7 linked regions of the Homo sapiens genome follow. The protein of the gene in region 6 interacts with the protein of the main gene of each other region in a pairwise test. Each region holds a gene or a part of one and is shown on either strand. Other genes may lie near its edges.

Region 1 (3,134 bases), on a different chromosome or scaffold from region 6:
TCACTTTTATGCACTTGCCTTTTTAATTATACAGGAAAGAGTGGAGTTACAAACTAAAAGTACAGTAATACTGGCTTTTATACTTACCTATAAAATTACATTTACCTGTGTTATTTCTTTATATGACTTCAAGTTACTATCTATTGTCTTTTCTTTGCAGCCTGATGTACTCCCTTTATTTCTCGTAAGAAAGTTCTACTAATAACAAACTTCATTAGGTTTTGTTTATCCGGGAATGTCTTAATTTCGCCTTCATTCTTGAAGGGTAGTTTTGCTAGATATAACATTATTTAACCTTTTAAAGAAATTACTTATTTCCAGCATTATAAATACATCGTTTTACTCCCTTCCAGCAAGTTATGTCTGTTCTATTCCTTCTAGAACCAAGGGTCAGGTCCCACACTGGGCACCCAAGCTGCCATTTTTAAGACTGCCATGCCACTGAACCACAGAGAAGACAGGAGCCAAGGTAAGTCAAAGCCACAAAGCTTTCCTAACAATAAGTTGCCTTTTTCTTGATTTAACATTCACATAGTTGCTGTAAACTTTTGACTGTTTTCCAGAGTCTGACAAAGTTGGTTCTGACAGTTTCTGGTTGTTTTCTTCTCTTTCCATGGAGGGATGGGAGTCTGGAGCTGCCTATTTGTCATTTTTCTGTTGTTACTCTCCTAGTTGTGAAATGCAGGACAAATCACCTCCTCTCTGTATCTATTTTATTCTTAATCAAACAGCACAACTCCAAAAATGTCATAGGGATGTGGTGAGGAGGCTATAGAGATTTTAAAAAATAGTGTGCAAAAAAGTTTAACTTCACATATTTTGTTGATCTTCCTTTCTACCTAAAAAAATATACTTCATCTTTAACCACCAGCCTGAATAGTTCTCTCACATCAGTAGGAGAAAAACAGTGGCTTTATTTCGACATTTTATTGAACTTTTCATATTACACAATTTACCCAAAACATTTAAAGTAACAGTAAGACAAACTTAAAAAAAAAAAAGTCATACAGACAAAACATCTCTAGGTGAGGCAATATGTAAATTTCATTGTCAAATCATGATTTTGTTACTCTGCTATACAACTTGGTACCATATCAATGATACTAAATGACTCAAGAGTAAGACATTATGCATTCCGTTTATATGAGAAAAAGAGATTATTTACAACTACTTGAAAGAGAAACAGAAATGCCAACAACAGTATCATTCAAATTCTAGTGCAATGTCAATTGTTACCAAGAGATCTTATTTGCTTATATAAATTTTGCAAATAATTCAAACCTGGCTATCTTATTAGAAGCTGACAAAGTATGCTTTTCTGTTGCAAAAGATCAGTGGACAAAAATCCTCCACAACCTCAGCTGATAAAACAAATTTAAGCAGCATTTTTTTTTTCCATTTCCTGAACAGATGTACTAATACTTAGGTAGAAACACTAAAGCATTTGTACTCAATCAATAAAGTGAATGCTTTGTGCAGTTTTAACAAAGCTGCTGCTAAAAAGACAGTTGTGAGTGGTCAGGTATATCTGCAATAGTAAGCAAGTTCTTACCTTTCCAGTTCTGTATGCTTCTGAAAACACCAGCTAAGGTATTAAATACCCATTTTCAAGTGACCTTGTTTTTACTATTTCATATTTATGACATCTAGTGCTGAGATTCTGGGGGCTTTAATAGATAACCTTATTAACCCAGATAATTTTTTTTGGAGCCCATAAAATAAAATTGAGAATGGCATTTCGGGAAGGTCTACATATATGTATTTAGTAAGTTAATTCGTAAGTTCACTTTACATAGTAAATTAATATTTACCAGTTTTTAATTGCTTTCAGTGTACTTGACTCAAATTAAGAAACCCTACAATGTAAGGCAAGTGTATCACAAGCTCCATGGCCAAAATTTGGCTTATATAAGAGGACCAGTGGGCCTGTGGAACATTTAATAGAATCTTTTCCATAATGCTATTAGTTCTACTGAATTAAAAAATATTATTTTGAGCTGTTATTATCTTAAGAAGTATAGCCCATGGATATTTGATTTGGCACCCATGTTAAAGAAAAATAACAATTTTTAAAAGGGAACGAGCGTATCTTACAGTTATCTCACTCATTCTTTTCAAAATTCAGTGCAACATATTTGGCTAGCTTAAATTTAAGTGCGTGACCGTTCAAGATTTTGTTTCAACTAATTTGGAGTGGTTGTAAAAAATTATTCATATTTTACTTTCTACATTTCAATTTTAATGTTAATTTGTATTCTCTTTCTCCAAAAAGGAAAACAAGATCAACCTTATTTGTGTATGGTTCAGCCTATCAGTCTTATAATTATTCTACAATAAAATGAATTTATGTAACTAACTATTTTCATGCTAACTTCCAAAAAATATCCTGAAATATTTAATTTTTAGCTAAACAAAGGATCCTACAGATTTTCACTAGTAAATACTTGATTCTATTCAGATTCTTTTCTAGAAATTTTTCAAACTTGAAATTTTCTGGTTTACTCTTATCTGAAACTATCCTAATTGAAAACAATTTAAATGCTATTGGTTGGACAAAGTAAACCTTAATCTAAAATAGTCACCATAAAATATAAAATGTGATCAGTGGTGTTTAATTTTATTTTCCCCCTTTTGGTGGAATTTAAAAATGGAAAATGTAGGTGTTTCAGTAACTACACACACACACACACGAGAGATTTGCTACTTATTACTGTTTTTACACTTTTTGGATATCACTTTTTTGTTCCAACACTACTATTTGCAAAAAGTAACCATTTCTGTGACATTTAGCAAGTAAAATGAATTTCTATTCGTATGCATTCTTGGTTGGACAATATCAGTGCAAAGTCACTGTGCTTCAGAGCGCTAAATGGTTCATGATACAACTGTGATTATTCACGTGAAGACATGAAACTTTAAAATGTCTAATGATAGAGCAGACACATATCATTTTACTACACAAAGTGCTTAACCCACCAAATTACATTTAGGAATAGACAAAATGTTTTTATTAAACTGATTAGTAATTTTTTTGCTTATTATATGTTGAAATGTACAAATGTACTTTTTCCCCTCACCCATAAAATACAAGGGCACATTTCCTTTAAGGTTTGGATTTTTCTTCAGTATTCATC
Region 2 (3,983 bases), on a different chromosome or scaffold from region 6:
AGAAGGTGAATGCCTACTGTATTTTGGGAAAATTCAGGCTTCCAGTGGGGACCTTAAAGTCCCTGCAGACTGTGAGCCCCTCTAGTAGCTGCTGGCAGAACCCAGATCTGATTTCTAGTCCTCACTCTGTGTCAGTCTCGTGATCTCTCTCCCCTTCTCCCTCCTTCCCTTACCCTCCATTCTTCTCTAGCCTCCACCCTTAGACATAGCTACGAAAGTAAACACTGACCCTTTCCCCCTTTGCTGCTACCTAGGCAGATGCCAGCCCCAAACCTCATCCCTAGTGGAGGCCTTGCTGATGTGGAAGTGGCCAGGGCCCTCATGGAGGCTGGGCAGAAGCCCAAGAGCAGGCTCTAAAGCTGCCAAACCCGGCAGCCCTGGTCCCCGGAGGCTCTTGCCAGTCTGACAGTGTTCTTGGCACTGCTCAGAGGTGAGTGTGGCTGAGTTTAGCAACTCCCCTGGCTAGCGTTAATGCTGGGGTTTCCTCTCCTGTGCCCAGGTCTCTCTATGTAGACAGCTAGGATCTCGTCCTGTCCCCAGGACCAGCTCGGTAACCAAGGACAGGTTCCTGTGCTGTGGCTGTCTAGTTGGTAAAGTGAGGGGTTGGCTGTCCTTGGGTGAGTTTCTTTCCAGCTCTGACCTTTATGTATCTCCAAGCCTGGGCCACCCTCTTCTCCTGGGGCCGTTGGCCAGGCTGTGAGCCCTGTGGTGGTGTGGAGGGCCTGAGTAGTTTGGCTTCCACTTGTGTCAGCCTCCTGTTGAGGCTAAAACCCATGAGAGGGTTTTAGATGGAAGCTATGGCAGAAGTGATGAGAAGGTTGGATAGACAGGGTGTTTTCAGGTTAGGGATTAAGAGCAGGGGCTTGGGAGTCAGTCTTGGGGCTCATTTTGACTTCATCACACTCTAGCTAGGTTATCTTGGCCAAGTGATTTAATTCTTCTGTGCCTCAATCTCTTCATTTGTAAATGGGAATAATAATAACAGTATTAACTTGCTGGACTGTTGTAAGGATTTAATGAAAATAACCAACCTTTATCCCCATTGATCAGGGGTCGGGTTTCATTCTAAGCACTTTATGTGTATTTTCTTTTTTATTTTCTTCGAGACAAAGTCTCACTCTGTCACCCAGGCTGGAGTGCAGTGGCACGATTGTGGCTCACTGGAATCTCCGCCTCCCAGGTTGAATCGATTCTCCTGCCTCAGCCTCCCGAGTAACTGGGATTCTAGGCGCCTGCTGCCATGCCCAGCTAATTTTTATATTTTTAGTAGAGACGGGGTTTCACCATTTGGCCAGGCTGGTCTCGAACTCCTGATCTCAGGTGATCCACCTGCCTCGGCCTCTCAAAGTGTTGAGATTACAGGCGTGAGCCACTGTGCCCAGCCTTCTATGTGTATTTTCTCACTTAATTTTTATAGCAACCCCGTGGAGGGTACTATTACTAGTGTGAGACCCATTTTCCAGGTGAAGAAACTGAGGCATAGTGAGTTGAAATGGTCATGGTAGTTTCTGGTGTGGATGGGCTGGTGGCTGAGGTACCCGAAGGACTGGCCTGGAAACTGCTGTGTGCAGTGCAGGCAGGCCTACTAGCACATGCTTCTGAAACCAAAAGCCTGAAAGGGAGGGGCAAGAGAGGCAGGAGTGAAGCTCTGAGTCAGCACCCGCTGAGCTGCACCAGAACCTTGGAGTCCCCGTGGCCCATCCGAGGCTGACCCTTCTCTCTGAGGCACCTTTCACCCGGTGGCTGCCACAGTCCCTTGGTCTGGAAAGTTAGCTGTTTGCCCTGCTTGGCTCAGAGGAGGGAGCAGGGGCAGCTCTCTGGCCGAGCAAAGGTCAGGCCCTGCAGAGCCGAGTTCCCAGAATCATAGTCTGTTGTTAGAGGGGGCAGTGGGCTTAGAGGTCGTGTCGCCCCCACCTTATTTCACAGAGGTGCACCCTGAGGAGGTGCTGGGACACGTCATGGTGACATCACGGTTGGGGTTTCTGCCCACAGAGCCTTTCCGGCCAGTGCTTTTTTTTTTTTTTCTTTTGAGATGGAGTCTCACTCTGTTGCCCAGGCTGGAGTACGGTGGCGCGATCTCAGCTCACCACAACCTCTGCCTCCCAGGTTCAAGTGATTCTCCTGCCTCGGCCTCCTGAGTAACTGGGACTACAGGTACATGCCACCATGCCTGGCTAATTTTTGCATTTTTAGTAGAGCAGGTTTTCACTATGTTGGCCAGGCTGGTCTCGAACTCCTGACCTCATGATCTGCCCACTTCAGTCTTCTAAAGTGCTGGGATTACAGGCGTGAGTTACCGCACCCTGCCAGCTTTGTATTTCTGACCTGACATTCTTGCCCTGGTTCTATCCCAGCCCCTCTAGGGAGATGAAGAACAGCTTTCCTCAAAATAACCCACTTAGAGACCTGGACTTTTATTCAATTCCCCCTCCTCAACCCTCCCTGCCACCTTCCCCTCTCTGAATTATCCCAGTTGTCATAAAAGAGAAGAGATAAGACAGTCCTTTATTTGATCCCCGAACTATGCAATGTGCCCTAAAAAGAGACGCTGGTCTCTCTTGCTTCCAGCAGAGCCTCTGAGAGCCTCTGGTGTCTGCTGACCTGCATCTGGGGGTGTCCTCCTTGGGGATCCTAAAGCCCCCTGTAGATGCTCTAGAAGAGGTGGTGGCCCTGTCGAGCCCAGACTGCCAGGGCTTGTCCTTACTGGGGATGCAGGGGCCCTCTAGGGGCTTCCTTAGCTCCTCCTAAGCCTGCATCTCTGCTACCTCAGAGGGGACCACCAGGCCCAGAGGACAGTAACTGGCAGAGGAGGCATAAGAGCACCGCATAACATGAAGGACCTGGACCCAGGATCTGGAAGGCCTCCGTCCTGGTTATGCCACTGACCTGCGAGTTCTGGGGTTCTGGGGAATCACTTCCCTGTTCAGGGCCTGCATTCTCTCATCTGAAGTGAGCATTTGGGGCTTATGGCCCTGAGGTCCCTTCCAACTCCAGTTTGGGGTTCCCTCCCCCTGGTTTCTTGGCCCTCCCCTGGCTATGGGGCTCTTCCTGCTGCAGGGAAGGCATTCCCTTGACCTTGTGGCCTGACTCCTCAGCTCTTTGTCCTCCCTGCTAGCACTGCACCTGGAAGACAGGTAGAACTCACAGAGAGCCTGGGATTCAGAACATCTGTCTCCCCCTCCAGGGTGGGGGTAAGGGGGAGGGCGAGGGGCCGTGCACTCACTCTCTCTTCCCTAGCAAGGCCAGAGAGCAGCTGTGGTCGCAGGCTGCCGCATGCCTTTCTGACACGCCACCGCTGTTATTTGAAGGAACCAGAAAGTCCTGTCTCAAGCTGGCCCTTTGGCACAGCCTCCCTGCCCCCAGCCCCTGTACCACCCACTCCTGCTTCTCAGGCTTCCTGACTCAGCCTGCCACTGGCCCCCGGGTCCCTGGATCCCTTCCTCCTCGGGGCCTGGCAGCTCTGGCACTGGGGCTAGCTTGTTTTCCTCCACTTCTTCCCCCGGCTCTCCACTTTGAGCCTTGGCTCCAACCCAGCTCTGGCTTCCAGGCCTGGCATCCCCGTCAGCTGTGGCAGGGGCAGAGCTGACCCTTTCAGAGGGTCCCAGCTGGCCCTGTGAGTCGCCAGGAGGCTGTGCCTGGCCCATCTGGCTTCTTCGCTGGTTCTGCCATCAAGCCACCAAAACTGGAAGGTTTTCTTAAACCACAACAGGGAGTTCCCAGGCTCCCTGGTTCCCTCTCTCCTCAGCGAATCCTTCCTCCTGCTTTCCTATGGCTGGGGAGCTGCACAGTGAGAGGCCTGTGGACAAGAAGCAGGCGCAAAGGCAGGAGGGACAGGAGCCCAGTTGGTGGGGAGGTGGCCTGTGGACAGCAAATCACACGCTGCCCTCTAAGGAGAAAATAGGTGGTGTTCCTCTCCACGGAGGCAGCCTGGACAAGGCTGGAAGTGGGCCCATGAGGCTGAGTGAGCTGGGCCTGGGCATTCA
Region 3 (3,983 bases), on a different chromosome or scaffold from region 6:
CGTGCCTTTAGTCCCAGCTACTCAGGAGGCTGAGGCAGGAGGATCTTGAGCTCAGGAGGTGGAGGTTGCAGTGAGCCAAAATTGCACCACTGCACTCCAGCCTGGGCAACAGAGCGAGACCCTGTCTTAAAAAAAAAAAAAAAAAAATCGGTCAGGTACAGTGGCTTATGCCTGTAATCCCAGCACTTTGAGAGGCTGAGGCAGGAGGATCACTTGAGCCCAGAGGAAGGCTACAGTGAGCTATGATGATGCTACTACACTCCACCTCAATGACCAGAGCAAGACCCTGTCTCTAAAAAATAAAAATAAATCTTCAGGGGCTGCCCTGGCCCTGAAGGTCCTAGGTTCTTTTTTTTTTTTTTTTTTTTTTTGGAGACAGAGTCTTGCTCTGTTGCCCAGGCTGGAATGCAGTGGAATGATCTCGGCTTGCTGCAACTTCTGCCTCCCAGGTTCAAGTGATTCTCCTGCCTCAGTCTCCCAAGTAGCTGGGATCACAGGCATGCGCCACCACAACTGGCTAATTTTTGTATTTTTAGTAGAGACGGGGTTTCGCCATGTTGGCCAGGCTGGTCTCGAACTCCTGACCTCAGGTGATCCTCCCACCTCGGCCTCCCAAAGTGCTGGGATTACAGGCGTTGAGCCAGTGCACCCAGCCCAGGGTTCTTCACCCAGCTTCGAAGACTCTGCATCAACTGGCCCCAACCACCTTTCCCGCCTCAGCCCCTATCACTCCCACACTGCAGTTCCAGCCACCATGAAAGGGCAGGCCAGCAGAGGGTCCCAGCTCTGCCACTTACTAGCCACATGGGGGCCTTTGCATTAAAAAAGAAGAGTTTATAAAAGAAAATAATAAATTGGGTCAAAAGTGTGACCCATTCATTGCCTCATTCACTTATGACCACTGGAGTGACAAGGGGACAAAAGGTCATTGTGGGATCTTGGCTCTCACTCACTGTTTATAACTGATAATCAGCATCTTTTTTTTTTCCTGCTAATACTGTGGCTTGTCAAGATGAATCCAGGACTAAGAGGAAACCTTTTCACTTTGTAAGGCAGGAGGGGATCTTGCTGCTTTGCCTATGTGTGACTGTGTATCTGTGTGTACCTACGTGTACACATGCCACCACCAGCCAATTCACAAAGGGGTGCCCAGGCGAAATGACATTATTATTATTATTTGAGACAGGGTCTGGTTCTCTTGCCCAGGCGAAATGACATTATTATTATTATTTGAGACAGGGTCTGGTTCTCTTGCCCAGGCTGGAGTGTAGTGGTACGATGTCAGTTTACTGCCTTCCGAGCTCAAGCGATCCTCCCTTCTCAGCCTCCCAAGTAGCTGGGGCTACAGGCATGCACCATCACCCCTGAAAATTTTTGTATTTTTTGTAGAGATGGGGTTTCGTCATCTGGTTCACCCAGGCTGGTCTCAAACTCCTAGACTCAAGCAATCTGCTCAGCTTGGCCTCCCAAAGTGCTGGGATTACAGGTGTGAGCCATTGCGCCTGGCTGAAATGACATTATTTGCATGAGGGCAATGATGGCATGGGGCCTTTGCCAAGTTAGTGGAGAGAGATGAGTAGTCGACACAGGTCCCCTCCCAGGCCTCTGTGAGCCTCTATGCATTTTCTGACACACACTTTCCAAAAAGCCACAGAGATGCTTACTCATAGGCTATGCTTAGAATAGGAAATTTTATTTCTCTCTCAATTTCATTCCGATGTTTTAGCTTTGTTCTCTAGGCAACAAACAGTCCCTCTGGCTCAAGCGTTTCTAGAAATGAACAGATAATCAGAATGCCTCCTGCTCGCAGGCTCGAAAGTTAACAGTGTTATGAGCTACCTGTGGCTTGCACATTAAACGTCCCATCACAAGAAGGCGGTTGGGTTTTCAGGTGAACTTCACCTTTGGTAAATTTCACCCTCTGCAAGGCAGCCAGGCAGGAAGGTCCTAAACTTCCCACCCATCTCCTCACACCTATTGTACATCCCACCCAATCCTCCACCTCCCCTCCCTGCAGCCCAGGGAAAGGGCAGCCATTCGCTGTCAGAGGCGGTGACTGGCTTCTACCTGGGGACCCCAAAATGTCAGCCTGTTTGTCCTGCCTCATTGCCACCTCTCCTTCTATTGGAACATGCCCAAGTTTCTGCCACATGCAGACAACAGCTGACCCTTCTCTAAACCCTGTCTGCTTGCTATTGGCTTGGCCCTTTTGCTCTTTCACGGGCTGTGTGATACTGTCTCCCTCTCTCCACGCCTCAGTCTCCTTAAGTCGTGTGGCTCGGGTAGCAACAGCCCCCTCACATGTGAGGTGCTGAACACAGGGCCTGATGCCCTGTGTGATGTCCTTGATGCCGGCTCACCCCGGCAGCTGGCATGATCCCCACACCCTGCTCCTGCTGGCTGACACCCTGTGCCCTGGCACGGCCTGTTTCCCATTCCCAGATCACCCTTTCCTCCTCCTTCAGTATGAAGAGCTGGGCATGGTGTGGGCACCTAGGGAGGCCCCAACAAATGTTTGCTCTCATGGTTACATTATTGTCATCATCATTGCATGTCTCTTCCCCTAGATAGCCTTCTCAGCGCTCCCCAGGAAGAAGCAACCGCTCCCCAACACGTGTGACCACTTTGACTCTAGAACTTCTTTTCTGCCATCATGATCTCTATATCTGAGTGCATCTCCCCCATCAGCCTGAGAGCTCAGAGGGGTTGAGTCCGCCTGCTCTGTGATGCGGACGGGCGGGGGAGTCCAGCTGAGAGCAAGCTCAGCAGGCTGGCGCCCCACTTCCCACCCTTTCTGTGGGTAGGAGGATGGCATAACCCCTCTCCTTGTGCAGGCTCCCTGGGCCTACAACTGGCCCAAGAAGGAGGGAAGTCGCTGGCCCTGCCAACAGCTGCCTGGGCTCTCCTCTTTCTGGATACTTTTTTTTTTTTTTTTTTGAGACGGAGTCTCACTCTGTCGCCCAGGCTGGAGTGTAGTAGCGCTATCTGGGCTCACTGCAAGCTCCGCCTCCCGGGTTCACGCCATTCTCCTGCCTCAGCCTCCCGACTAGCTGGGACTACAGGTGCCCACCACCACACCTGGCTATTTTTTTGTATTTTTTAGTAGAGACGGGGTTTCACTGTGTTAGCCAGGATGGTCTCAATCTCCTGACCTCATGATCCACCCACCTTGGCCTCCCAAAGTGCTGGGATTACAGGTGTGAACCACCGTGCCTGGCCTTTTTTTTTTTTTTTTTTGAGATGTTGCCCAGGCTAGAGTGCAATGGTGTGATATCTCGGCTCACTGCAACCTCCGCCTCCCTGGTTCAAGAGATTCTCCTACCTCAGCCTCCCGAGTAGCTGGGATGACAGGCATGCACCAGCATGCCCAGCTAATTTTTTTTGTATTTTTAGTAGAGACGGGGATTCACCATGCTGGCCAGGCTGGTCTCGAACTCCTGACCTCAAGTGAGCTGCCTGCCTTGGCTTCCCAAAGTGCTGGGATTACAGGCGTGAGCCACCATGCCCAGCCTTCTTTCTGGATACTTGCCCTCTGCTCCCACAAACTCTGCTCTCAGGAATGGAGCTGGCATCAGCCACGTACACTCACGTCTGAATCTGGCCCTGGTGCCTCTCCTGGAGCCTCCTGCAGTAGAAACCTTTTGTTCAAAACCTATCTCAGGCTGGGTGTGGTGGCTCATGCCCGTAATCCCAGCACTTTAGGCCGAGGTGGGTAAATCACTTGAGTCTAGGAGTTGGAGACCAGCCTGGGCAACATGATGAAACCCCATTTCTACAAAAAATACAAAAATTAGCTGGGCATGGAGGCACGCCTATAGTCCTAGCTACTCGGGAGGCTGAGGTGGGAGGATTGCCCGAGCCTGGGAAATTGAGGCCGCAGTGAGCCACTGCACTCCAGCCTGGATGACAGAGCAAGACCCTCTCATAAACAAACAAACAAACAAGCAAAAAAAGCCTATCTCAGGCCCTGGCTCAAGTCTGTT
Region 4 (3,983 bases), on a different chromosome or scaffold from region 6:
CTTATATAATTCATCTTCCCCCAAAGTAGAAGAAAAAAAATAACTCCTTGAAATAATTGGCTGGTCATGCCTGTAATCCCAACATTTGAGAGGCCAGAGTGGGAGGACTGTTTGATGCCAGGAGTTTGAGACTAGCCTGGGCAACATGGCAAAACCCTCTCTCTACAAAAAATGTACAAAAATGAGCCTGGTATGGTGTCATGCACTGTAGTTACAGCTACTCGGTAGGCTGAGGTGGGAGGATCACCTGAGCCCAGGAGGTTGAGGCTGCGGGGAGCCGTGATCACACCACTACACACCAGCCTGGATAACAGCAAGACCCTGTCTCAAAAAAAATTTTTTTTAATTCAATTTTATCTGATCAAAACTTCTATTCAACAACCTAAAATTAAGTTTCCTGAATAAATCTGCACAACAGAAAATGAGTTACTATCATAACCAGTGCTGGTTCTTGGCCAGAAGTTTTAACTTCAACTTTATTTTCTTTCAGATGGTGTCTTGCTCTGTCACCCACGTTGGAGTGCAGTGGCACAATCATGGCTCACTGCAACCTTCAACTCTTGGGCTCAAGCAATCCTCCCACACCTCAGCCTCCAGAGTAGCTGGGACCACAGGCACATGCCACCAATTCCCTGCTCATTTTTTAATTTTTTGAAAGACGGGGTCTCGCTATGTTGCTTAGGCTTGTGTCTAACTCCTGGGCTCAAATGATCCTCCCACCTCAGCCTCCCAAAGTGCTGAGATTACAGGTAAACCATAGTACCCGGCTAACTTCACCTTAAATGCAGAAATTGATTTCTAGCAGTCATTGTATGCTGTTAACTTAGGAAGCACAAATCAGCAGTTCCAAAGATAACTGCTGTCAAGTTTTGAGGTTTGAAAAATTAAGAGGCCCAAGACCTTGGACCTACACTAACGTAGTGACCATGTAGCAGCATCTTTTCGGAGATCCTAATTTAAGCACAGTTAAAGGTATGAAATACATCAACACTTTAGATGTCTGAAATGTCTCTGCCTGCTAAATCTGACTGGCTTTAAAATAAATAAATAAAATGTCTTTACTTCCACAGAAGTGATGAGTAAGTCTCACAAACACCATTCCTATGAAAAATAGGCAAGACTCCTAACCCTACCTTATGTTTTGATGTGTAGTTTTAATCTTCATGGTCAATTACATCCCTTTGTCTAGATAAGCACTTCTCTCCAGTACCCTACTCCTAGCCTGGCTGATATCCTACATAGCTGCTGGTTTGGAATTAACTCTGGAATAAACTGTTTATGATGAGACATTCAACCTAAACAGATGAATTGTAAAACCAGAGGGGCTGAAAATACTGGACAACTTTTCTTGTTCTGAGCTTCACTATGAGGACTGCCAGCTCTGTCTAATACATCACACACAGACACTGTTTTATGAGACTAACCTTGTCCCACTCCTGTTCAGAGGTCACATGCTTATCCAAAAACTCTGCCATCCCAATGCCCATTCTCCGGCAAATGTCGGCAATCACTGTTTGGTATTTCTCAGCCAGATTTCTAAACTCAAGGGAGATCTGAAATGGAAACCGTAAAAACACAGAAATCATGAAATATGTACAGACATGGCACCAAAGATCACAAGGCAAACAATGGCGGAATTAATCATGACTGCAATGGTTCATCTATAAGCCTAATTTAGGTCACACATTTTTTTTGTTTTTGTTTTTGTTTTTGAGATGGAGTCTCGCAATGTTGCCCAGGCTGGAGTGCAATGGCACGATCTCAGCTCACTGCAAACTCCGCCTCCCAGGTTCAAATGATTCTCCTGCCTCAGCCTCTCCAGGAGCTGGCATTACAGGCATGCACCACCACGCCCAGCTAATTTTTATATTTTTAGTAGAAGTGGGGTTTCACCATGTTGGCCAAGCTGGTCTCAAATTCCTGACCTCATGATCCACTAGCCCTGGCCTCCCAAACTGCTGGGATTACAGGCATAAGCCACTGAGCCCGGCCTCATGTTTCTTATTATTTCATAAATTTCATAAATATTAAAATAGAATGGTCTAAAAATGCTAATGTTTCTAGATTCAAAAGAAGATTCAAAGTCTCACTACACATTTCATCTTTCCAATGTATAATGAGATGCTTCAACATAAAGCTGGGTTTAAGTTTTTGGGAGAACAGCTTGTTTAGAGAAACCTCATTATGAGAAAGATTCATTTGTGCAAACATGGATCAAGCACTTCCTATGTAACAAGTATCATTCTAGGCACTGGGGATATACATCAGGGCAACAAACAGAAACTCAGACCCAGAGTTGCTTCCAAGATGTCCCAGTAGGAACAGCTCTGGTCTACAGCTCCCAGCAAGATCGATGCAGAAGATGGGTGATTTCTGCATTTCCAACTGAGGTACCTGGTTCATCTCACTGGCACTGGTTGGACAGTGGGTGCAGCCCATGGAGGGTGAGCCAAAGCAGGGCAGGACGTCACCTCATCCAGGAAGTGCAAGGGGTCAGGGGATTTCCCTTTCCTAGCCAAGGAAAGGCGTGAGTGACTGTACCTGGAGGAACAGTATACTCTGCCCAAATACTGTGCTTTTCCCAGTCTTCGCAACTGGCAGAGCAGGTGATTGCCTCCAGTGCCTGGCTCGGGGGGTCCCATGCCCATGGAACCTTGCTTGCTGCTAGCCAAGCAGTCTGAGATCAAGCTGGGATGCTGGAGCTTGGTGAGGGGAAGCGCCTCCCCGCCATTGCTGAGGCTTCAGTACGCACTTCTATGCTCACAGTGTAAACAAAGCAGCAAGGAAGCTTGAACTGGGTGGAGCCCACCGCAGCTCAGCAAGGCCTACTGCCTCTCTAGATTGCATCTCTGGGGGCAGGGCATATCTAAACAAAAGGCAGCAGACGGCTTCTGCAGATTTAAACATCCCTGCCTGACAGCTCTGAAGAGAGCAGTGGTTCTCCCAGCTCGGCATTTGAACTCCAGTAACGGACAGACTGCCTCCTCAAGTGGGTCCCTGAGCCCCATGTAGCCTGACTGGGAGGAGACACCTCCCAGTAGGGGCCGACAGACACCTCATATAGGTGGGTGTCCTTCTTGGACGAAGCTTCCAGAGGAAGGATCAGGCCGCGATATTTGCTGTTCTGCAGCCTCCACTGGTGATACCCAGGTAAACAGGGTCTAGAGTGGACCTCCAGCAACTCCAACAGACCTGCAGCTGACGGGCCTCTGTTAGAAGGAAAACTAACAAACAAAGGAATAGGATCAATATCAACAAAAAGGACACCCACACCAAAACCCATCTGTACGTCACCAAAATCAAAGACCAAAGGTAGATAAAACCACAAAGATGGGGAGAAACCACAGCAGAAAGGCTGAAAATTCCAAAAACAGAACGCCTCTTCTCCTCCAAAGGAACGTAACTCCTCACCAGCAAAGGAACAAAACTGGATGGACAATGAGTTTAACGAGTTGACAGAAGTAGGCTTCAGAAGGTTGGTAATAACAAACTTCTCCAAGCTAAAGCAGCACGTTCTGACCGATCGCAAGGAAACTTAAAACCTTGAGAAAAGGTTGGACAAATGGCTAACTAGAATAACCAGTGTAGAGAAGAGCTTAAATGACCTGATGGAGCTGAAAACCAAAGTACAAGAATTTCACAAAGCATAAACAAGCTTCAATAGCCGATTCGATCAAGCAGAAGAAAGGATATCAGTGATCGAAGATCAAATTAATGAAATAAAGCAAGAAGACAAGATTAGAGAAAAAAGAATGAAAAGAAATGAACAAAGGCTTCAATAAATATGCGACTATGTGAAAAGACCAATGCTATGATTGTTGTACCTGAAAGTGATAGACAGAATGGAACCAAGTTACAAAACACTCTTCAGTATATTATCCAGGAGAACTTCCCCAACCTAGCAAGGCAGGTCAACATTCAAATTCAGGAAATACAGAGAACACCACAAAGATATTCCTCGAGAAGCGCAATCCCAAGATACG
Region 5 (3,983 bases), on a different chromosome or scaffold from region 6:
GATCACAGAATCTAATGCCCCCTACTTGCTTCTGACACTGTCTTCATTGAGCACTGTTGAGCACTGAAGCAATACTGTTACTACATGGTCTCTAAGAACACTACAATCTCTCTCCCATCTCCTGCCTTTCACATGTTGTCTCAGAAAACTCTTCCCTTCCTCATGCCCTGCTCACCACCAAATACCAAATCATCCTTCAAGTTTTTTAGCTCAAATACTGAAATAGCTGAAAACCTGTCTCTGAAATCCCCATGTTCCCACAGCACTTGGACGAATCTCCATTTGAACAATCATCTCAGAGTATTCTTATTGCACATCTACCCGCTCCTACCTCCATATAGATTAAGCTGCTGGAGGACCTAGAAGACAAGGTTTTTTTTTTTTTTTTTGAGACAGAGTCTTGCTCTGTCGCCCAGGCTGGAGTACAGTGGTATGGTCTCAGCTTACTGCAACCTCCACCTCCTGGGTTCAAGCTAGATTCTAGTGCCTCAGCCTCCTGAGTAACTGGGATTACAGGAGTGTGTCTCGGCTAATTAGCCTGGCTAATTTTTGTATTTTTAGTAGAGACAGAGTCTCACCACGTTGGCCAGGCTGGTTTCAAACTCCTGACCTCAAGGGATCCGCCCACCTCACCCTCCCATAGTGCTGGGATTATAGGTGTGAGCCACCACGCCCAACCAAGACTGTCTTTGCATTGTAGTAAATCCTAGTGTCTAGCAGAGCATTCAGCCAAGTGGTACAGTATTTGTTGAAGGCATGAGTAAATAAGCAAAGGAGACGATAATATACAGCTGACTGTGATCAGGGCTGAGAAATCTAAGTGCAAATGGGAGCCAGGGAAGGAAGCAAATCATTCCTACTACAGGGCACTGGAGAAGCTTTCTGGAGGAGAGTTTGTCAGCTGGGCCCTGACAGTCCGCGTAGGCCTCCCTAGACTAGGTATATTTTGAAAGGCACAGGTGGGAATACAGGAAGTTTGTCTAAGAAATGGTCAAGTAGCTCATGCAGTAAGTGATGGATGCGAGAAGCTCCTACTGAGCTAAGGCTGAAAAGGTAAAATGGATTCAGATCTATGAGACTAGTGGTTCTCAACCCTGGCTACAATTAGAATGCTTTTTCTTAAAAAACAAACAAACAAACAAAAAAAGGCTGATACTTGGGTCCAGCCCTCAGTGGTTCAGATATAATTGCTTTGAGGTGTGATCATAACGTACAGCAAGATTGAGATCCACCGTATGATGTTATGAATAAAAAGCTGAGGCCTTCTGCTCTCGATCCCAACAGTCTAATCGCCATCCAGCGGCCAGGGAGACTTTTTCACATCAAATCCTATCATTCCCCTACTGAAACCTCTCAGCACTATGACTGAAAAACAGACTCCCTATCATGACCTATCATGATCTGGTCCCTGCCAATCTCTAAGACCTTATCTCAGGCCACTCACTCTTCATTAACTGTGGTAGGCTGAATACCTCCTCACCCCTCCCAAAAATGTTTAGGTTCTAATCTCTGGAACCTGTGAATATGTAAATTTACTTGGCAAAAAGAATTTCACAGATGAGATTAAGTTAAGGATCTTGAGGTCAAGAGATCATCCTGGATTACCCAGGCTGGTCAGATGACGTGATCACAATGGTCCTTACAAGGGAAACAAAGGAGGGTCAGTGAGAGAAGGTGATGAAACAAGCAAAGTAGAGATGAGAGACAGAGATTTGAAGAGGCTGTGCTCATGGCATTAAGATGGGGAAGGGATCCCAGGTGTTTAGAAGCTGCATCAGGCAAGGAAACTGATTCTCCAGAACCCCTACCCACACCTTGATGTTTAACCCCTTGAGCCTCATTCTGGACTTCTGACCACCAGAACTTTACAACAGTACATATGACTTCACTGCCGCAGTAGCAACAGGAAATTTATACAGTACCTAAGCTCCTGCCCAGACTGGCCATTTTTTTTTTTTGACACAGGGTCTGGCTCTCGCCCAGGCTGGAGTGCAGTGGAGCAATCAGGGGTCACTACTGCAGGTCCTACATCTCAGCCTCCTGAGTACTGCAAGCCACCATATCTAATATTTTAATTTCTTGCAGAAATAGGGTCTCGCTATGTTGCCCAGGCTAGTCTCAAACTCCCGGGCTCAAGCAATTCTCCTGCCTTAGCCTCCCAAAGTGCTACGATTAGAGGCATGAGCCACCATGCCCAGGCTGGCCTTCTTTTCAGTTCCTTAAACATGCCAAACTTGGGCCCCGTCAGGTTCTTTTGCACTTATGGTTCATATTACCTAGAACACTATTCTCTTACCCTGCTCTTTGAAAGACTCATTTCTTCTCATTTATTCAGTAAATACTGAGTGCCTACCAAGTGCCAGGTACTGCTGTAAGTGGTACAGATTTAAAAAAAAAAAAAAAAAAGACAAATAGCTCTGCACTCCTGGAGTTACATTTACTAAGATGGGGAAGACCACGGACACAAAAGATTTCGGGGCAAAATCAGCAGTTTGATTTTGGACATTTTAAGATGCTAAATGACATTTTAAGATGCTAAAACCAAAAAGCGTTGAAAGGGAGATCCATTGGAGTGTTTTAAGTGTAAGACTGCATGTTCTGACTCACCTGTTAGAAAGAGAATTCTGGCTACTGTAGTAAAAATCTGGAGGGGGAGGGGAGAAGAAGGAGGGACAAAAGCACAACGCTAGGAGACTGGTTAGGAAACTACTTTAATCACGAGGCCAAGAAGTAATGGCTTGGTCTAAGATGGATGCAGTGGAGGTGATGAAAAATAGATTCCAAGTACATTTTAAGGGAGAGCTGACAGGATTTGCTGATGGACTGACTGGGGAGGTGGAGGAAGGGTAAATAAAAGGAATCAAGGAAGATTCCAAAGTTTTTGTCCTGAACAACTAAAAAGATAAAGATGGCTAAGACAGACTCCTAGCATTCCAATAATTAGAGATCACAAAGATAAGAAGGAATAGGCTGTGGGGACTGAAAAAGAAGTACCAAGGAACATAAGGTGAGCCAGGAGGGGGTAGTGTCCTGGAAACCAAACAAAGTGCCTCCAGGAGGAGGATCCATCATCTGTGTCAAATGCTGCTCATAAGTAAGATGAAAACCAAAGAGAGACCACTGTATTTTTTTTCTTTTTTTTGAGACGGAGTCTCGCTCTGTCGCCAGGCTGGAGTGCAATGGCGTGATCTTGGCTCACTGCAACCTCCACCTCCCGGGTTCAAGCGACTCCCCTGCGTCAGCCTCAGCCTCCCGAGTAGCTGAGACCACAGGCACATGCCACCACCCCCAGGTAATTTTTGTATTTTTAGTAGAGACGGGGTTTCACCATGTTGGCCAGGATGGTCTCCATCTCTTGACCTCATGATCCACCCATCCTGGCCTCCCAAAGTGCTGGGATTACAGCCATGAGCCCTGCACCCAGCCATGACCACTGTATTTTTAACAGGTCATCAGGGAACTCAGTAAGAGCAGTTCCAGTATGGTTGGGAGAGGGGAAGAGAGACTGACTAGAATGAATACAAGAGAGACTGGAAGAATTAAAAGACAAGCATATATGATACAAGTCTTTAAAGGAAAAAGAATGGAGTGACCAGTGAAAGAGCATGTGGTGTCAAGTTTGTTTTGTTTGTTTGTTTGTTTGTTTTGAGACGGAGTCTGGCTCTGTCGCCCAGGCTGGAGTGCAGTGGCGCGATCTCGGCTCACTGCAAGCTCCGCCTCCCAGGTTTATGCCATTCTCCTGCCTCAGCTTCCCGAGTAGCTGGGACTACAGGTGCCCGCCACCACCCCCGGCTAATTTGTTGTTTTTTAGTACAGACGGGGTTTCACCGTGTTAGCCAGGATGGTCTCGATCTCCTGACCTCGTGATCCACCCGCTTCGGCCTCCCAAAGTGCTGGGATTACAGGCGTGAGCCACCGCGCCCGGCCAAGTTTTCATTTTTTAAGGTAAGAGAAATTAAAGCACGTTTATATGTTGATGTGAG
Region 6 (4,641 bases):
CCTCTTCATGTGTAAAATGGGATCTGTGTCTTACAATTCCTTCCAGTTCTAAATGGGATGTAGAGTATTGTGCTTATCTCAAACTGGGGCCTTTGGGCTACAGCTGGCCCTTTGACATGTATTGTTTGGTTTGCACATTTAAAAAAATGGAATGAGTTGCTGATTTCACATAAAATGGATATTTTACCTTCTTTTGAAAAGTGGGAAGCTCTGGCTCCCACACAATACTTGCTGCTGAGACACGGGTGTCTGCCCATGCCTTTGAGGCTGTCTGGCCATTTTGTTTGTGGAAATGCTGACCTGGAAGATATTTCAGTAAAAGCACAGGTTCCGGAGCCACCCAGACCTGGAGCCAATGTATTGACCTCTCTAAGATTCAGTTTCCTTACCTCTAAATGCTACTTGTTACATGCTGTCCCCCAGGGTGCTGTAGGAGGATCACATATACTTATCCAGGTAAGGTGTTTAGCACTGTGCCTGGCTGTTTCTTATAATCGTTGTCATTATTATAATGCATGTAACAAGTTGTCCCAAATTGGAATGGGATTTGAAGTCTGGCAGCACATGAAGGTAGATGACCAGATTCCCATTCCGACAGTGGGATCTGAGACATGGTTTAATGTGCATGGGAGGGTTGTTTGTTGGGAAGGAGTTTTATGGCAGAAGGTGGCTGTCCCAGCAGAGCTTATCTCTTGTGGGGGTCTAGGTAAAAATGACAGTCATCAGGGGTCTGGACAAGGAGGTTGAGCAGGAGAGCATGAGGGGTCATGTTCTTGAGTCACCAGAGGCTCTGCCTGGGTGGGGCCTAGAGCCACAGCAATGTAGGCATTGTGGCAGAGGCCTCAATAGTGGCCACTGGCGATGGGGCTGGGACATCTGGCCACTCACACTTAAAAGCACAGTTGCCTTCCACGTCCCCTGCTCTGCTTCTTCCACAGAAACACAAAGCCCTCAGAGTACCCCTTCGCAGGCCCCTGACTTCTGCATCCCTCATACACCAAAATTCAGATATACTCTAGGATTCTTGGGACACACAGGCTGCCATGAGCCTTGTCCAGAAGCCAGATCCAAGACCAAGGGCTTGCTTTGTAGCAGAGAGGATGTGGATTAGACAGAGGAAAGCATTTTCTCACAGTGAGGTAGTTGAACATTGAAATACCTTTCCGTGGGTGATGGCACAAGCCAAATGCCCTCTTTGTGCCTCTCTTCCCATTGACTACTAAAGTGAGGGCTGAATCATATGGAAAAAGAGCCCAGAGCTTCTCAGATGGCAGATCCTGTTAAACCCCAACTCTCATTCACTCTCACTTTTTTATTTCCTTTTTTTTTTTTTTTTTGAGAGAGAGACAGGGTCTCACTCTGTTGCCCAGGCTGGAGTGCAGTGGTGTGATCATGACTCACTGTAGCCTTGAACTCGTAGGCTCAAAGATCCTCTCATCTCAGCCTCCCAAGTAGCTGGGACTACAGGCATGTGCCACTATGCCTGGCTAATTAAATATATATGTATATATTTGTAGACACAGGGTTTTGCTATGTTGCCCAGGTTGGTCTTAAACTCCTGGTCTCAAGTGATCTTCCTGCCTTGGCCTCCCAAAGTGCTGGGATTATAGGTGTGAGCCACCGTGCCCAGCCATTCTCACTTTTTTCATTTAAAAAATCTGTCCCAGTGTCATTTTGCATCACTAGGAGGGGCTTCTTGACTGGGTTAGTTTTCCTAGGAAAGTTTGGCTAGGAGTAGGGTGCTGACAGACACAAGCAGATGGACTTTCTGGGTTCTGCTGCTATACCTGGCATTGAATAGCGTCTCCACGGAGGACTAAACCAGGGGGGACTGGCTTGAGACTGAGGTTTCACTGAAAGCAAGAGCTTCTGCTAGTGAGTTTTCTTTAGCTTCAGCACAGGCTGCTGGAGCTGGAGCAGGTCTGAAGTAGCTCCTCTGGCAGATGTTCAAGACTAGAGTCTCCCCAGTTTGGAAGGATGAGCATCAACCAGCCCCTGTGTGCTGCGTCTCCAGGAGCGAGCCCTTGCTGATTTCTGCTTATAATGCTTTGGGCAGGGGGTTAGGGGGTGCTGCTGTCTTCCCCTTATCAGGGTGGCTGAGATGGGGCTGGCCTATCTGGAGTGGGTGCTGGGAAACTCTAGGATCTCCCTGGTTGTGCCTTTGCATGGAAATGTCATTGCATCTGATGGGGAATGAGGGACTTTAAAGAGAAAACATCTTAGATGACCAGGTAATTGGGAGGACCTTTTGGAAATTCTTGCCCGCTTTGCAGGAATTTGAGGTGCTCATTTGGTTCCAAGTCACCTTGATCTCCCTGATGATGTTTGGAACGAATCACACTACCTTTTAAATCTCTGGGCTCAAAGCAGGCAACTTGTCCACTGTTGTAGGTGGATGCAGTTCTCCAGAGGTTCCTTTGGCTTTAATCAGTGCTCCTTTAAGACAATCCTTGAGACACCTCTGGAAGCAAGGAGATCACCACGAGCTTCCTGGACCAGTATGGTCCCTTTGGCTTGGTGCCTAAACCAGACGTACCCCAACTCCTGCCCCCATCCCAGCATAAGCTCTTGGCAATAAATGCCAGACTTCCCCTGCCCTAGCCTCCACCCAGCCTGCATTCACTCCTTTTCCTGGCTTTAGCCCAGCTCTTCCCCTCAATTGTGACATATCTAATGTAGCTCCTGTCCCAGGCTGTTCCCTCCTCACCCCCAGGCCTACCTGAGGTTCATGTCCCCCTTCATGGCCAGACTGAAGACATTGGACAGGTTCCCTCCAGGTGAGCAGCCACAGACCAAGATGGCCAGTGCCTCAATGTTCTTCAGCCGGAAGACCTTGCCCAGCACAAAGGCCGTGAGGGGCATGATGCCATACTGTGCCACCAGGGCGATGGCCAGCCCTTTAGGCTTCCATAAGTGAGCCTTGATCTTGCTGAACTCCATGGTGCAGCCCAGCGAGAGCATGATGAAGAACAACATGAACACCAGGATGACGCTCAGTGCCAGGTCTGTGGGGCGCTTGCCAAAGTTGGGTGGCAGGGTGAAGTTGAATGGGGCAGACGCGTTGTGGGCCTCCATCCTCCTGTGAGGCAGTGGAAGACCACTCCTTGTTCTCCGGCTGACTCCGTTTCTTGTGCAGTTCTTGCTGGATGCCTTCTTTAATCACCTCTCAGGACAGAGAGTTTCTGGACAAAAGCTCTGGGCAAATAGAAGGGTTATGCAACTATCTGAGCTATTTCTCTGGCTGTCGCCCCAAAGAGGAACAGCCCAGAACCTTATCTGCCTGCCCTAGCTCTCCCAAGCTCCCTGACCTCTGCTGGATTCCTGGGTGCTACTTGTACTCCTCCCTTGTCACTTTGCTGCTTCTGGGCTTATTTCTCCCCTTTGCCCTCCACTGAGTGTGCCTCATGGGCATTCATTCAGTTACTGGGGACCTGCCCAGGGCCCACCTGAATCTAGGTCCAGCCCATCTCCTTCCCTGCAGCTCCTTTTCCCAGCTCCGCTCTTGATTCCTTAGTTTCTTGGTTGGGGGAAGGTGCCCTCCCCATGTCCAGTGGGTTATCATTTGTCCCCAGAACCCATGAGAGTGAAAGGAGCTGGGTGTTGCCTTTGGTTCCTAGATACAGGTAGCATAGTCCAAGGGGGTGTGGGACAGGCAATGTCACTGGCCTCCAGGAGGGGATGTGTCCATGACCCTTTTCCTGGGAGCTGAGAGGATGCCAGTATCCTCCCTGCCTGTTCTGGGGAAATGTTTGTTTTATCCCCAAACTGGGACTGTATGAGTCCCAGGGAGGAATACTGGTGGTGGCTGCTCCACACTACCTGGAATGCTTACCATCAGAGGGAATAACCAGCTGGGATGGTGGGTGGGCTCTCAGGAAGCTTGGAGGCTCTTTCCCCGAAAAGCAACCTGAGAGAACCCTGGCTGTGGAGATTGCTTTGTGCCCGAGGAGGCCCATTGCTTGCAAAACTTGCTGAGAAGGAAGCAGGAATGCAGTCTTTTCTTCCTGACTTCCTGATTGCTTTACTTTTGCACTGGGCCTGTGTGTTTCAGGCTGGGAGCCAGGCTTGGGGCGTGGAGCAGAAGCAGAGAGAGGTGGGCATGCCAGGGGCGGGGCCACCTAGTGTGTGAGGTTATCCTAGGCCTTGCTCTTTCCATCTATCCCCACTGCAGAGGTGGGACAAGGGAGGAGGGGTCTCCTTCAGAAACACAATTGCTTCTTGGCTTGGTTGGAACCTAGGAGGCCTGGGTGGGGTCTGAAACAGGTGATTAGGCTTTGTATGTAGGACTCCAGAGGGCAGAATAGGGACCAGGGTGTGAACCACTGTTGGGTGGAGGTGGGGACAGATTTTGGCTTGGTGCAAGGAACCACCTGAAAATGAGAGCTCTCCAAGAATGGCCTTGAGGCCTCTGGAATCCTGCTTGGATAAGGGTTGGATGGCAGGATCCATACATATTGCATCATATCCATGAAAAGGCTGCTCCCTGGGCTTGCGCGGTGGGCAGCCTGCGGGGCCGTATACTGTGGCCCTGGGTGACATGAACTTGAAGCCTCTTTTCCTTTGAGAGTCTCTGCTAATGATTTCCTGGTGCTTGAGTTGGGCTGGTATCAAAGGGAGGGCAGGCAGAGGACTGGGCACTGG
Region 7 (4,420 bases), on a different chromosome or scaffold from region 6:
CCATGTGGCTCCAGGCCTCTACCTGCTGATGAGTGTGCAATTCTTTCTTTTTTTTTTTTTTAGACAGAGTTTCACTCTTGTTGCCCAGGCTGGAGTGCAGTGGTGGGATCTCGGCTCACTATAACCTCCGCCTCCCGGGTTCAAGTGATTCTCCTGCCTCAGCCTCCAGAATATCTGTGACTATAGGCACGTGCCACCATGCCTGGCTAATTTTTGTAATTTTTAGTAGAGATGGGGTTTCACCATGTTGGCCAGGCTGGTCTCGAACTCCTGACCTCAGGTGATCCACCCGCCTCGGCCTCCCAAATGCTGGGATTACAGGCATGAGCCACCGCACCCGGGTGAGTCTGCAATTCTGTGTGGAGTTGTGGACTATTTCTTCAGATCAGTTCTCCAGTTTCTGCCAGTTCCACACCAGCCCCGAAGTCTTGTGTTTTTTCTCTTTACCTACCCCGATTACAGCCACTGCTTCTATTGGAGAAAGTCAAATCCTAGGGCAATGGTTTCCCTAGGTTCTGTTCTGCAGAATTTGAGGCCATGTTAGTGGTTCTGTAGCTGTTTAAGTAATGTAATTTATTTATTTATTGAGACAGGGTCTCACTCTGTCGCCCAGGCTGCAGTGCAGTAGTGCAATCACTGCTCACTGCAGCCTCTACCTCCTGGGCTCAGGTGATCCTCCCACCTCAGCCTCCAGAAGAGCTGGGACTACAGGCTTGCACCACCACGTCCAGCTAATTTTTTTTGTATTTTTTGTAGAAACAGGGTTTCACCATGTTGCCCAAGCTAGTCTTGAACTCTTGGGCTCAAGCAATCCTCCCGCCTCAGCCTCCCAAAGTGCTGCGATTACAGATGTGAGCCACTGTGCTCAGCCCAAGACTTGTTATTTAAAGTGAACTTTTTAGGCCAGGCATGGTAATCCCAGCACTTTGGGAGGCTGAGGAGGATGGATCCCTTGAGCCCACAAGTTTGAGACCAGCCTGGGCAACATACTGAAACCCCATCTCTACAAAAAATACAAAAATTAGCCAGGCATGGTGGCATGCACCTGTATTCCCAGCTACTTGGGAGGCCGAGGTGGGAGGATCGCTTGAACCGGGGAGGTGGAGGTTGCAGTGAGCCGAGATTGCACCACTGCTCTCCAGCCTGGGCGACAGAGTGAGACCCTGTCTCAAAAAAACAAAAACAAAAAGTGAAACTTTTAAATAGTAATACCAAAGGAACATGGACATCCAGCTGTGTTACAGACCGCATGTTATCACTTTGGAGACTGCAGCACATTCAATGCTTGGCCAGCTCACACTGATTTTTGTGCAGCCCTGAGAGGAAAGGTTCTCCTGTCATTTTTGCTTAACTGAGGAATATCCTGTGATTATAATGAAGCAGTTAAGAAAAAATTAAGCTGTCACCATTAGCAATTATGTATCAGGGTGAATCAAGTTTGGGGAAAACATAATACAGAACTAAACTGGAATCTCAAACAAACATAAAATTCAAATGCTCATCTATTCCCTGGACTCACTATTTTTGTATGCTTTTGGTCTCACTATTCTGATTGGCTTTATCATAAGAAAATGATAAAAATTTTCTCTTGTCAGAATACATTTGTATTAATAAAATACTGTACTGCTTTTAAGTTTTTCTTTTTTTCTTTTCTTTTTGTGAGACAGAATCTTGCTCTGTCTCCCAGGCTGGAATGCAGTGGCTGGCGTGATCCTGACTCGCTGCAGCCTCGACCTCTTGGGCTCAAGAGATCCTCCCACCTCAGCCTCCTGAGTAGTTGGGACTACAAGTGTGCACTACTATGCCCAGCTAATTTTTTTGTTTTTATTTTTAGTAGAGATGAGGTCTCACTATGTTGCCCAGGCTGGTCTGGAACTCCTGAGCTCAAGCAATCTGCTTGCTTCAGCCTCCCAAAGTGTTGTGATCACAGGCATGAGCCACGGTGCCTGGCCATTAAGTTTTTCATAATCAGGTTTTCTGTTAGGTTTTCTTTGGAAGAAAAGAATTCTGCTGCTGAAGAAATGTTTGAAAAATCAGTGATCTGGAGCTGTATTGTCAGATGCTAACCACATGTGTTGTTCAGTGCTATAGCCACCAGCCACATGTGGCTCTTTACATTTAAATTAATTAAATTAAAAAATTATGGTCAGGTGCAGTGGCTCACGCCTGTAATCCCAGCACTTTGGGAGGCTGAGGGGGTTGGATCACTTGAGGTCAGGAGTTTGTGACCAGCCTGGCCAACATGGTGAAACTCTGTCTCTACCAAAAATATGAAAAATTAGCTGGGTGTTGTGGCAGGCGCCTGTAATCCCGGCTACTCGGGAGGCTGAGTCAGGAGAATTGCTTGAACCTGGGAGGCAGAGGTTGCATGTCACTGCACTCCAGCCTGGGTGACACGGCGAGACTCTATATAAAAAAACAAACAACAACAACAACAAAAACTTCCTTACACTAACCCCATTTCAAGCGCACACGTGGCTAGTGGCTACCATATTGAACAGTGCAGATGAAGACCATTTCCTGCATCATAGGACGTTCTTTTGGATGGCACTGGTCTAGGAAAGGGCTTGAAGTGGGATCCAGGAGCTGTGGATTCCTATCCCAGCCTTGCCTAATAATCCCTGTGACTTTGGGCAAGTCACATCTTGCCTCTGGGCCTCAGTTTTCTTGTCTGAGAGAAAGGAGAAGAACCCCAGTCCTCCTCACCTCCCAGGGCTGGGAAGAGTGTGAAGGGATAGGCTAAGGGCAGGGCCCCGGCTGCGGCAGAAGGGCAGGTGGAAGGCAAGGTTGGGAATACCAGGGTAGGTACTGGAGCCAAGACCTAGTTCCATCCTGGGATAAAGAAAGGGTCCCAGCTCTGGAGACCCCAAGGGGTGAGCCCCAGACTCTGGCCAGTGGCCTGGTACCTTGATGGGGGAGAGGACCTGTCAACCCACTTCCTAGCCTCTCCCCTCTCCTCCTGGGTTTTCTCACCTGCAGAGCTGGGAGGTGTGTGGTGCCACGGCTGGGCCTGGTGCCTCTCAGGTCTCTGCTCTGCTTGATGCTCCAGGCCTGCCTTATAAAGCCCTCAAGGTCCCTCCCAACTGTCCCCCCACCCCGCCCCTACCCTGCCATATGAGTCCAGGCGAGAGGAATGGGGTGGGGCACAGGTACAGCCCATCACCCTGCCCCGCCCTTTCATTTAGTGTCAGTCAGTCATCCAGGATGTGGGGGAAGGATAGGGGAGTTGACCTTCATGGTGAGGGGCTGGAGCGGGGTGGCGGCAGCTCTCCAGCTGTACCTGAGGGGCAGGAACCAAGCTCCCTGGGTCAGGAGCAATGCTTCCCACCATATCCTGGGGGTCAGAGGCCTGGCACTTATCTCTCGAACTACATAGGGACCTTTGTGGGTGGTGGTAGGTGAGGGAGTGAACCCGATGGGCTTAGATTCAGGGAAAGTGGATTTCGCCATCCACTGATGTTTGGCAAGCGTGTGAATGTGGGGTGATGTATTGATTCCCCGTCCCCTCCACTGGACTCTGCAAACATAACGTGTTACCAGGAGCAATGGGTTGTGGGCTGATGGCCCTGTTCTCTCCTTCTAGTGGCTCACATCCTGGTCACCTCTGAAGTCCTTTCACCCTCCCCCTACCATGGAACACCCTTGGTGCCTTCTTCTCCTTAGGCCCTCTGTGCTGGGCTGGGTTTGGCTTGTAGCTGCCCCGTGTCTTCTAGGTCAGCTGCCCATGCACCACCACTTGCAAACCCCCTATGCAGAACCAATTCCTGGAGGGTCCTGCCTTTGAAGCCTCCTTCATTTTGCTTTCAAGGGGAGCTAGTAATCTGCATAACAACTTTTTTTTTTTTTTGAGACAAAGTCTAGTTCTGTCACCAGGCTGGAGTGCAGGAGTGCAGTGGTGTGATCTCGGCTCACTGGAACCTCCGCCTCCTGGGTTCAAGCGATTCTTCTGCCTCAACCTCCCTAGTAGCTGGGATTACAGGCGCACGCCCCCACGCCTGGCTAATTTTTTGTATTTTTAGTAGAGATGGGGTTTCATCGTGTTGGGCGGGCTGGTCTCGAACTCCTGACCTCATGATCGGCCCAGCTTAGTCTGCCAAAGTTCTGGGATTACAGACGTGAGCCACCATGCCCAGCCAACAACTTTTCAGTATCAAAATATACCTTCAAATGGTTAGCAAACAGACTAAAGCATTTGCCAAAGATGGACCAGAAAACAAAATGGTACCTTGTTGACTTATTTGATAAACTGCTGCCTCCACATGGTTTGACCAGATGTAATGAGCCGTAGGCTGTTTTTTACTTTTCCACTGTTGAGAGCAGAGATTTTGCTCCTGTTCATGCGTCATTGGGCCCCCACCTTTTCTGGGAGAGTTTGATCCCCTTGGGTATTGGGTAACTGCAGTGGTACCCATGCTTACAG

The links.
Region 1: the proteins of SLC10A1 (region 6) and SLC25A46 interact in binary tests that used the Homo sapiens proteins (3 or more experiments, as listed by UniProt).
Region 2: the proteins of SLC10A1 (region 6) and TMBIM1 interact in binary tests that used the Homo sapiens proteins (3 or more experiments, as listed by UniProt).
Region 3: the proteins of SLC10A1 (region 6) and SLC35E4 interact in binary tests that used the Homo sapiens proteins (3 or more experiments, as listed by UniProt).
Region 4: the proteins of SLC10A1 (region 6) and FDFT1 interact in binary tests that used the Homo sapiens proteins (3 or more experiments, as listed by UniProt).
Region 5: the proteins of SLC10A1 (region 6) and TVP23B interact in binary tests that used the Homo sapiens proteins (3 or more experiments, as listed by UniProt).
Region 7: the proteins of SLC10A1 (region 6) and GAST interact in binary tests that used the Homo sapiens proteins (3 or more experiments, as listed by UniProt).

The regions. Positions count from the first base shown.
Region 1 is NC_000005.10:110,762,936-110,766,069, reverse strand, and holds the end of SLC25A46 (mitochondrial outer membrane protein SLC25A46), read right to left. Parts: 3' UTR 913-3,134; downstream 1-912. UniProt on the Homo sapiens protein: Transmembrane protein of the mitochondrial outer membrane that controls mitochondrial organization.
Region 2 is NC_000002.12:218,282,210-218,286,192, reverse strand, and holds part of TMBIM1 (protein lifeguard 3), read left to right. Parts: intron 1-254; exon of another isoform or gene 255-430; intron 431-2,056; exon of another isoform or gene 2,057-2,154; intron 2,155-3,983. UniProt on the Homo sapiens protein: Negatively regulates aortic matrix metalloproteinase-9 (MMP9) production and may play a protective role in vascular remodeling.
Region 3 is NC_000022.11:30,641,984-30,645,966, reverse strand, and holds part of SLC35E4 (solute carrier family 35 member E4), read right to left. Parts: intron 1-3,983. UniProt on the Homo sapiens protein: Putative transporter.
Region 4 is NC_000008.11:11,819,320-11,823,302, reverse strand, and holds part of FDFT1 (squalene synthase), read right to left. Parts: intron 1,554-3,983; coding exon 1,425-1,553; intron 1-1,424. UniProt on the Homo sapiens protein: Catalyzes the condensation of 2 farnesyl pyrophosphate (FPP) moieties to form squalene. Proceeds in two distinct steps.
Region 5 is NC_000017.11:18,783,809-18,787,791, reverse strand, and holds part of TVP23B (Golgi apparatus membrane protein TVP23 homolog B), read right to left. Parts: intron 1-3,983.
Region 6 is NC_000014.9:69,794,081-69,798,721, forward strand, and holds the start of SLC10A1 (hepatic sodium/bile acid cotransporter), read right to left. Parts: upstream 3,162-4,641; 5' UTR 3,076-3,161; coding exon 2,720-3,075; intron 1-2,719. UniProt on the Homo sapiens protein: As a major transporter of conjugated bile salts from plasma into the hepatocyte, it plays a key role in the enterohepatic circulation of bile salts necessary for the solubilization and absorption of dietary fat and fat-soluble vitamins.
Region 7 is NC_000017.11:41,710,941-41,715,360, reverse strand, and holds the start of GAST (gastrin preproprotein), read right to left. Parts: upstream 3,031-4,420; 5' UTR 2,974-3,030; intron 1-2,973. UniProt on the Homo sapiens protein: Gastrin stimulates the stomach mucosa to produce and secrete hydrochloric acid and the pancreas to secrete its digestive enzymes. It also stimulates smooth muscle contraction and increases blood circulation and water secretion in the stomach and intestine.